2 separate regions of the Homo sapiens genome follow, and region 2 is linked to region 1. The links come from fine-mapping of genetic effects on plasma protein levels. A gene starts in region 1. The other region holds a variant in brackets. All regions are shown on one strand. Distances are from middle to middle.

Region 1 (5,386 bases):
CCTCCTCTCCTCCTTCTCCTTGTCCCCCCCATGACCCTGCAGGCTAGTCTGGAACTCCTGGCCTCAGGCAATCCTCCCATCTCAGTCTTTTGAGTAGCTAGGATTACAGGTGCAAGCCACCATAATTCTTTTTCTTTTTTTTTTTTTTTTTGAGACAGAGTTTCACTCTTGTTGCCCAGGCCGGAGTGCAATGGCGTGATCTCCGCTCACTGCAACCTCTGCCTCCCAGGTTCAAGCAATTCTCCTGCCTCAGCCTCCCAAGTAGCTGGGATTACAGGCACGCACCACCACGCCCAGCTAATTTTGTATTTTTAGTAGAAACGAGATTTCTCCATGTTGGTCAGTCTGGTCTTGAACTCCCGATCTCAGGTGATCCACCCACCTTGGCCTCCCAAAGTGCTGGGATTACAGGCATGAGCCACCGTGCCCAGCCAGCATAATTCTTAATTAGAGATATGTGGTGGTTGCTCAACTGATTTAGGAACTTTTAAATACCTACAGTGATATACACTTTTCAGTGATGTCACATTCGCTAAACTAAACTAATAAAGTAGTCAAAGGTTAGGGGAAGAATCCTAAGTTATTTGTGAAGGCAGTACCCTTTCAGGGCTTCAAGTCTTGATGTTTTATTTTATCAGTGTTGCTATTCCCAGCTTAAGTTTCCTTTTATCTGCTCAGTCACTGGTTTACCAATGTTTAAACAGAAAAAAAAAAAAAAACAAAAAACTTGCCTAGTTAGGCCCAGAGCTGTGGCTCATGCCTGTAATTCCAGTACTTTGGGAGGCCAAGGCAGGCAGATCACTTGAGGTCTGGAGTTCTAGACCAGCCTGGCCAACATGACGAAACCTTGTCTCTACTAAAAATACAAAAATTAGCCAGGCATGGTGGCTCATGCCTATAATCCCAGCTACTTGGTGGGGCTGAGGCTGGAGAATCGCTTGAACCCAGGAGAGGGAGATGGCAGTGAGCCAAGATAGTGCCACTGCACTCCAGCCTGGGCAACAGAGCAAGACTCATCTCAAAAACAACAAACAAACAAACAAAAAACTTGCCTAGTTAGTATATAATACATTTCCAATAGGATTTTCCCAATCTTTCTCTGAAGACCACACCTTTAAGTAAGGATGTGGTCTTCAGAGAGAGATCGCATCTAAAAGAAAGGAATGGCTAATTCCTAACAGAACAATTCCTAACAGAAATACAAAATCACTCCTTATTAATGGCTTTGCTAAGATGAATTTTTAAAATTGCTGAAATAAGCTTCATTCAGGTGAATAATTTCTAACCTACTAAAGAGTAATCAATATCCATTGATTGATTGATTGAAATACCCTTCTTCTTCCTAACTACCATAAAGGCGCAGTTGGGATTCAATGACTATTAAATAACTCCAATAAAAACGACTTCAGCAGAGAGGGAAATGAAAAAAGATTTGTCATATTTTCCCCCTAAACATTCACTGGAAATTAGCAAAATGTAAGATTATAATTATGGCCTTAATCAAGAAGAAATCTGACTATACACCTTTTATTATTAAAGTTATAAATTTCACCTGCTGCCATTTTTAAACTAGCATGTTTAAAAACAGGCTACAATTAGAAATTAAACAGGCTACAATTAGAAATAGAATTTTTCTGTTAGTTTGTGAAATTAAACTTTCTATAAAATTTGACCATTCTATACTGTTTAATCATGTACATGCTAATAGAAGGAAAGCATTATTATTCACAGCCTTAATTTTTTTCTTTATTATGTATTTACTTCTTAAATTGACAAAAATTGTATATATTTATGTGTACAACATGATGTTTTGAAATATATGCACATTGAGGAATGGCTAAACTAAGCCTTAATTTTGACAGTTATTCACTATAAGGCTTTTTGGTGTCACTGCGATTATTTCAAATAATTATTATTTAAACAATCAGTTCAGTTTAACGTAGGAACAAGAAAAAATGTTTTACTTTTGATAATGTGTGATATACAAGAAGAAAAGTGTATGTCATTATTATTTATCCTATTAATACATTTCTATCAATGAATTATAATTTCAGTAATCCTTTGCTCACCCTGCAAGGATGAGCGTGGAGAAGAAGAGTGGAGAAGTAACCCACAATGTAACTTAATTTCCCAGCGAGAACCTGAACCCTTACTAAAGTCCCCAGTAGTAGTCAGCCAACTGCAAATTGCTGTGGGAATATTTACAGTAACAACTATTAGGAAACATGCAGTATTTTGTTTGCCACGAAGCCAACTTAATCTTCAGTGTCACAATGCAAGTTAAGATTTCCTAAATATATTTTTAAAGATTTTCTATGATTTGTTTCTCCTAAGTGAATAGTGAGCTTAAAAGACTGAAAGCGAACTTGTCCTTATTTCACTGAAGTGTGTCATCAGACTTCTGATCTCCAAGCCTGTAATTGATACGTGGCTGTTACTAGGCAAAGTCCTTGGCTTTTCAGATGAAGGTGAACTCACACGTATGAACACTTGGGAGTTTGGGGAATCCTGACAGAGATAACACACACCAACGCTCACATCCACCACCAACAACCCGTCTACCCTGACAAGACTGCTCTCCGCTTCTCGCACTGGGCTCCCAGGAGTGCTGCTTAGTTTAAAGAGGAACCGAAAAAGTTTCTCAATGTGCGAGCCCAGTGTGTGGTCAGCGAGCGCCGGGGCGTCGCGCTAGTCCTCTCGTCCCCCGCACAAACCCCCCCTTGGATCAGGAAAAGGCGCTCACCGTTGTGCTCGCGGTATCCCCAGCTGAGCCTCGACATGGTCCCTCGGGGTGGAAGGAAGAGAAAGATGTGACTGAGCAGCGAGAAAGAGGAGGGAGCGGGGAGGGGCCCGGGAAGGAGCCTGCTAGGGCGGGACCGCGGGGCGCCGGCGGCAGGAGTGCGAGACCGTGAACCCGGTCCGGGGCGCTCCCGCCTGCGTCCTCCAGACGGCAGAGGCGTGCGGGGAAGGCGCCCGCGCCGCTGGCTGACTCCTGGGGCGCGAGTCTCTCTTAGTTTGGACTCGGGAATGAGAGATTTGAGTTAGAGGGAGAGACGGAGAGAGAAAGGTTTCCGGGGGGGATCTCCTGCCTTCTGAGGAGTCGTCACTCGGGAGAGGAAAGTGTTGCCTAGAGGACTTCCAGGAAGTGAATGAGTCACCAGAGCCTGGAACTGCCAGGCTGGGAGGTGGGGATCCCGGTGGAGGCGTAAAAGAGGTCGGTGATGGTCGTGGCAGTGATGATTACAAATACAAAACAATAATGACGATGGTAATCACCACCACTGAAAAATAACTACTTATTAAGGGCTTATCGTGGGCGAGGGTCTTAGCTAAGACGTGTACCCACGTTTTCCCATTAGATCCTCTCAGCATTTCCTCGAGAAACACGTGGCTTAAGTTAGAGACACTATGTAACCTGCCCCGGGTCGCTCAGCTAAAGCGGGCGGGGTCGCTGTTAGAGAGGACCAGCTCCCGGTCCTGGGCTGGCTCCATTGCCCATTCATCCTTTCCTTACCTCTTCTCACTCTGCAGGCTTGTGGCTTGGTGAGTGAGGAAACCAAAACCAGTTGTTGAGATTTGGTCCCAAAATTCTGCTGCCCTCCTGACCCCGCAAGAAGGGTTTTCAGGACATCTGCCCTGGATTCTTGGTGGGCTTGTTACCCTAGGACTGGAGTCAGAACTAGCTGCAGAGTCTTGAATTTCTGGCCTGGAGTCGTGAATGTTCTGGGTTCAAAGTGAAAAATAAAAATTGGGTACATGAACCACTTTCTACGTCCTTGTCTCGGGTCAACTGCCTCATATTTTATAAATCCAAGCAACCTCTTTGTAAGGAACCTAGTAAACCAATTTTCAGTAACTCGGATGATTTGGTATGTCAAGATGAATAATGCTCTTAACGTTCTAAGTAAGTATCAGTTCTTGACACCCAATAATAGTGGTTACATGAATGGATGAATGACTGAATAGACCAAAATTGTTAAAGAAATTTTGGTTGGTGGGTCTCAAATACTTCCCAAATTGTTACTTTTATTGCTTGGGTACACAGTTTGTAACCACCCAATGGGTTTACCTTGCCCACTGTCAAGACACAGCTGATTTATCAAGACAGGGGAATTGCAATTCATAAAGGGAAATTCACGTAGAGCCGGCTGTGCAGAGGACTGGAGTTTTATTATTACACAAATCAGTCTCCGCAAGCATTGGGGATCAAAGTTTTTAAGGACAATTTGGTGGGTGGAGGAGAGCCAGTAAGTCGGGAGACCTGGTTGTTTGGGTCAGAGGTGAAATCATAGGGAGTCAAAGCTGTCTTGCATTAAGTCAGTTCCTGGGTGGGGGCCATGGGATCAGATGAGCCAGTTTATCGAGCTGAGTGGTGCCTGCTGATCCATCCAGTGCAGGGTCTGCAACATATCTGAAGCACTGGTCTTAGGCTTTACAATAGTGATGTTATTCCCAGGAGCAATTTGGGGAGGGTCAGAATCATACAGCCTCCAGCTGTATGACTCCTAAACCATAATTTCTAATCTTTTGGCTAATTTGTTAGTCCTGCAAAGGCGGTCCAGTCCCCAGGAAAGAAGGTTTGTTTTGGGAAAGGGCTGTTATTGTCTTTGTTCTAAACTATAAACTATGTTCCTCCTCAAAGTTAGTTCAGCCTATGCCTAAGAATGAGTAAGGACAGCTTAGAAGTTAGAAATAAGATAGAGTTGGTTAGGTCCAATCTCTTTCACTGTTTCAATTATAATTTTGCAGTAGTGGTTTCAAGTTCCTTCTTGTTTAAATTCATAGCGCAGTCTATATAATTTTCTAAAACAGCAACCTAAGTATTGGCAACAATCAAATTACCTTTCATAGGAAACTAGTTAGGTCATCTGTAGAGCATCCATCATTCAATGGACTTATATATATATATATTTTTTTCAGATGGAATTTCGCTCTTGTTGCCCACGCTGGAGTGCAATGGTGCGATCTCGGCTCACTGCAACCTCCACCTCCCAGGTTCAAGCAATTCTCCTGCCTCAGCCTCCAGAGTAGCTGGGATTACAAGCATGCATTACTAGTGGCTAATTTTTGTATTTTTAGTAGAGATGGGGTTTCACCATGTTGGCCAGGCTGGTCTCCAACTTCTGACCTCAGGTGATCCACCCGCCTCGGCCTCCCAAAGTGCTGGGATTACAGATGTGAGCCACTGCGCCCAGCTGCCATTCAATGGACTATTGTCCATTTATAAAAAGAATGAAGATCTCCATGAGCAGAGCAGATATAAAGTGAGTCCTGGGATGTATTGAGGTTGCGGGAGCGGGGGAAGCAAAGGAGCAAAAGAGTGTATATAATAGACTGCATGTTTAAGAAAAAAATAGAAATAAGAAACTGCACACATATTTTCAGA
Region 2 (5,386 bases), 440 kb after region 1:
GCGATCTCGGTTCATTGTAGCCCGGACCTGCTGGGCTCAAATGATCCTCCCGCCTCAGCCCCCCAGGTGGCTAGGACTAGAGGCACGGCACCACGGCCAGCTAATTTTTGTAATTTTTTGTAGAGATGATGTTTCACCATGTTGTCCAGCCTGGTCTCGAACTCCTGAACTCAAGTGAGTCGCCCACCTTAGCATACATACTTTTGGACAATCTTATTTAAAATAATTTTCTTGAGGGAACAGAAACATTTAGCTATAAATTAAAATATCCATTCAGCAGAATCATTTGGGTTGCCTTTCACACCACTTTACTTTTAAGACATAAGCAGTATCTTATGTGTGCCATGCTAATTTTCCCACTTTGAGCATTGGCTGAGCGATACAGTATTTTTTTTTTTTTTTGGAGAGATTTTCTCAGGGTTCTAATAATCAGTGCTAAACTGTTGATAAATTTAAAACAAAGATTACTTAGGGTCTGCCTTTTAAAACAGAAGTATGCAATAAAAAAGGAATTCCATCTCATAATAGCCAGGAGAACAGTAAAGGCTGCACAGAAACTACATGAAGTGAGGCGTGAAGAGAAGCTATTTCAGGCCTTTTGACTTGAGGGCAAATACACATGCATTCAAACTAAAAGATTTCTTCAGGTGTAGAGATTTTTAACAATAGGAGCTGATGATCAATGTAGGGAAAAAAGCATGCTTTATCACTTTTTTTGGGCCAGACCAACTCGACCTTTCATTTTCCATGTAGTCTTCAAATAAATGCATATATTCCATTTTTTGTCTTCCACATCCCCTAATAATTATTTTGATTTCCATGATTTGAGTGGCTTTCTGAAAAGCTTTTATGAAGAGTAGAAAGGAATTGGGAACCATGTTGTTGAATGAGTGATTGATAGAAATATTCAATGACCATGTACAAAGTAATAAAAGAAAATTGATCTGGTCACTTAAAAATCTAACCCCATTCCATGTTTCTGGTCATTAAGCATCAGTATTGTGGCTGCCTATATATGACAGCTTTTTTTCCCTCATCAAATATAGCATGATTTCTCTAGGCAAGACATTGCATTTTTCACAACTTTTTCATACAATATCATCTATAATATTGAAAGTGCAAAAGTCCTTTCATAATACACTTTAATATGTTAGTCAAAGGAGTATTTGATCAGATACAAACAACATTGCTTATTCTTAGTTTGAAATGCCTAAAAATAGAACATGTGCACTCATGTCAAAAACATATTATTGTTATTATTTTATTACTATTACTTTTTGGGACAGAGTCTTGCTCTGTCACCCAGGCTGGAGTGGAGTGCAGTGGTGTGATCTTGGCTCACTGCAACTTCTGCCTCCCAGGTTCAGGCAATTCTCCTGCCTCAGCCTCCCAAGTAGCTGGGATTACAGGTGTGTGCCACCATGCCCAGCTAATTTTTGTATTTTTAATAGAGACAGAGTTTCACCATGTTGGCCAGGCCGGTCTTGAGCTCCTGCCCTCAGGTGATCCGCCCACCTCCCAAAAATGCTAGGATTACAGGCATGAACCACCGCGCCTGGCCAACAATATATTATTCTTAAAGATATGTATTGTGACTAAGAAGGATACCATCAGAGCAGGCAAGCGTTCGTCTTATCTAAATTTGCCTCAGGGTTCCTCAGCTTTGGGTGCAAAGAAGCAGTCAATGTGAGTGAACTGGAGAAATTAAAGTGAAATGAGAGATAAGGAGAAAAGATAGATATTGATTGTGAAGACAGACTTAGGGAAGTGGGTGACGAAACAGTGAATAGAGTAGATTGAAAAGAAATGGAGAATGGCAATGGGTAGACAGGCTTGGAATGGTGGAGCTATGGCTCAGAGGAATTTTTAAAACCAATCTGAGTATATTTTTACATGAAGAGAATATGGATGATCACTGTGTACCTTGTTTAGCCTTTATGGAAGATACAGGATTTCATATACATTCATTAGCTGCATTTCTGAGGTCACAATACAACCTAGGGAGCATTTTAGTTAAGTCTTTATAAAACATAGATAGCAATGTTGCATGCACTGATATGTTATGATTTTGAATATGATGTTAAATGACTGAAAATACCATCTCAGAAGTTCTTGGAAATTTGAATTAAATAATTAATACTTAAAGTATTTAAATATATACTTACCCAACAGACAGGAAAGGTTCCTTTGATTCAAGTCTATGAAAAAATATGAAAATTTTCTTTTAATATAAAAATTTGCTGTATATTCAAAAATTGCTTTTACATGAACCTGACAAAATTATTATACTTGTTTGGATGAAAATGCATAATGTAGCACCAGTAAAAAGCTATAAATAATATACTAAGACCTAATCTGGACTAATTCAATTTGCAGCTGGATTAATGCAGAAGCTAAATAAAATGAGAGTCTTGGAATGAGGACATAACATTTAACTGATATATTAAGATGATCATAGTATTAATCTAATTCTGATTGCACTCTCTGTATCTACTCATTTTCTTTATACATGGTAATTTGTTTGTAGACGTTTCTATATATCTATTTGTGGTTGTTGTAATAGTGAAATAATTTATAATGTGCTTGTTACATGTTAGTTGAATAACTGATTTACTCAGAAGAGAGAAGCAGCATACCATATATAGTTATTTATTGGTCTTAACACCCCTTAGGGTGGGGTAGTGTCAGCTCACAAATTTGGGTCCTTCAGCCTCCTTTGTGCTTCTAAAAACTTGGTATTTTCTGTACCTCAATATCTCAAAGGGAAAGTCTAATCCTGAAGGTTGTGGTTCATTTGAGAAAGCCACTTTAAAACATATTCTGTGTTTTATTTTTCTCATTATAAAATGGGCTAGGCTTACTTTCAGCTACTTTTCTAATTTCATAAATTAACTTTCCATTTTTTTTACAACATGTAAGTAAATCAGGAAAGCATCCACTTCTAAATAGTTCCTAGATAATAATTAAGGAAACCTGTTGGTAAGTGTATTTTGGCCACGCTAGTTTCATTATAGGTTTCTTAAGATACAATTAAGGGTGAAATGTAGGCGAACTGAAGATATTTTTAACTAAATCCTGGTGTTTAAGATTTTTAAGAAAGACAGTTGAAATGACTATCTTAGAATTAGGCTAAACATTTATTTTTATAAATGTGAGTCCAAACAAC[G/T]AAGGCACTAATTACTTTTTTGTCTCTATTTCATTCTGTGTAGGCAAAAATGTGCTTATGAGAAATATGCCTTGGTGCATTTATAGGCAGAGCTGACATGCATCTCCGCCATATACCATGCTGCTTTGGGTGAATCATAATGGCAGAAAAGGGATTTTTAGGAAGCAAGTGCCTTAGCAATCCCTTTGGACAGCTCTAGGTAGGGTAGAAGCAGATAAAACCAATAGTTGGTGCTAAGAGTTTGGAGAGGTTTATTTATGTAACCTTTCCTTTTCTGAATTCCAATATTATTCACATCTCTAACTGTAGGTACATTAATTGCCTTATTGTGTTTGTTTTTCTCATACATTTGTGATCTACATAAGCAAACAGAACTAGGGAGGGAAAAGCTGAAGCAACGAAAAATGTTTGGATATATTTGCTTTATAAGACATGACCAGTGCCAAGTGATCAAAAGGAAATTGCCTTGAAGAAATGAGGGGGATTCTACATAATATGATGCAGGAGATTGTTCACATATTTAGACCATCAACACGATAATGGTACTACTTTATTTTCCACCTGATAATACTTGAAATAAAGATAGCATGTGGGCATTAATGGGATCCCTTCTCTCTGTATTTGCCAATAATTTCAGCCTGACATTTATCAGACATTAGTGTATGTGTGTGATTTGCTTGTTTGAAGTGCTACTCTCCAGCTTCCTATGTTCCCCATTTTCTATACACTACATCGTCCCCCTTGCCTCTCACTGGTATGTGATTCTTAGTGGCACTGAATAATATAATGAGAATCTTTTGAAAGGTTTTATATCTTTCTCCTCTCTCTTTTTTCAGCCTCCATGTCTCATTAGTTAGCAAGTCCCATCAATTTTTCCTTTGGGACTCTCATGTCCCCCTCTGCATTCCATTCCCAGCCTGGTTTTCATTAGTTACCCCAGCCTAGTTAGTCTCTCCGAAATTCTTTGTTCAAAGTCACTTCAACTTTACACACTGCTCTCACACTAAGCTTCCATCAATGCTGCCACTCACTTCCTTTGGGCAAGTACTGCATTGCACCACTTTAGGGTGGCATAAGCAACTTGAATAAAAGCAAAGCCCACCACTTTTGATTTTCCCTCTGCAATTATCAAAATACTGAGTTCAGAATGTGTTTGTTTGCAGTAGTATTTATTGATTGATTTCTCTCTCTCTCTCTTTTTTTTTGAAGGTTTCAGACAAGCAACTGTTGGATTAGAGCATACAGGGACATATATTGTCCTACTGCCCCCTGTGGTTAGTATGATTTGTCTGACTAGCTAGTTATTAATAGTTGTCCCCTTCTCCTACCACTTCAAGCCCACTTCAACCAGCTCCTTCCAAATGCTCAAGAGAAGACTTCAGAAGAAATTCAAAGTTTTCAAAATGATGTTGGATTGAAAGTTCTGATGATGTTCTATAAACCAAGAGTTTGCAAACTGTGGCCAAATCCTGCTCACCCTCTGATTGTGTATAGCCCCAAGCTAAGAATGGTTTTTACATTTTAAAGTAGCTGGAAAATATCAAAAGAAGAGTAATAATATTTTGTGACACATGAAAATTCATGAAATTCAAACTTCAGTGTCCGTAAATAAAGCTTACTGAAACAGAGCCATGTGACTTCATTTACATATTGTTTAAGGCTGCTTTGTGCTACGGCAACAAGTTGAGTAGTTGTGGCAGAGCAGACTGCATGTCCAAAATCCTAAAATATTTGCTATGTGGCCTTTATAGAAAAAGTATGCCAGTGTGTGAGATATTATTTTGTTGGAAGGAATTGGAAACAACCTCCTAAAATAGGCTTTCTTTACTTTTAATACATATCAAGTTATTTATTTTCCTAGATTTAGAAATTCAGAATAATTTGAATTCCTTCTCTACATCACCATTTCAACCTCTGATCCTACTAACATATTCACCTGAAATGTTTTTGTGTTACCACCTTTCTTGATTTCATTAATCATAAGAAGATGGTACCCAAACTTTTAAGATCTTCACAAACATGCCCTCACCAGTTTTCCATGTCATTCTTTACTGCTTCTCTAACTAAACAATAAACACTTCATTCCAGAAAAACTAAGTATTGTCCAGACACATCTGATTTGGCTTTGCTTTGGTACACTTAGCATTATATATCTATACCAGAATACTGTTTTTTCCCATGCATGATCTATTTATCATTTACATTTATCTCAATCTAACT

Direction of the effects. Positions count from the first base shown, and alleles are read on the strand shown. Strength reflects both the effect of a copy and how common the allele is.
For the plasma level of the protein whose gene starts at base 3,151 in region 1, allele G in region 2 goes with a higher level than allele T (moderate association).

The links. PIP is the posterior inclusion probability: the model's chance that the variant is causal. Protein levels are from antibody-based Olink assays in UK Biobank. Linkage for the fine-mapping came from a reference panel and not from the study's own genotypes, which makes the PIPs less certain.
Region 2: its variant is fine-mapped to the plasma level of the CA13 protein (UK Biobank, PIP above 0.99).

What each region holds. Positions count from the first base shown.
Region 1 is chr8:85,243,223-85,248,608 of GRCh38, reverse strand. CA13 (carbonic anhydrase 13) reads right to left here and starts at 3,151. Exons shown (of 7, transcript NM_198584.3): 1 at 2,744-3,151. The coding sequence starts at 2,780. It overlaps LOC105375936 (a long non-coding RNA gene), which reads left to right and starts at 5,124. Exons shown (of 3, transcript XR_929126.3): 1 at 5,124-5,264. RefSeq lists an enhancer at 2,347-2,456 and a silencer at 2,817-2,896.
Region 2 is chr8:84,801,582-84,806,967 of GRCh38, reverse strand. RALYL (RALY RNA binding protein like) reads right to left here. Exons shown (of 9, transcript NM_173848.7): 4 at 2,166-2,198. Among named protein-coding and RNA genes, the nearest start is that of LRRCC1, 300 kb to the left of the region's middle. The variant G/T (reference allele first, on the strand shown) is at 3,167.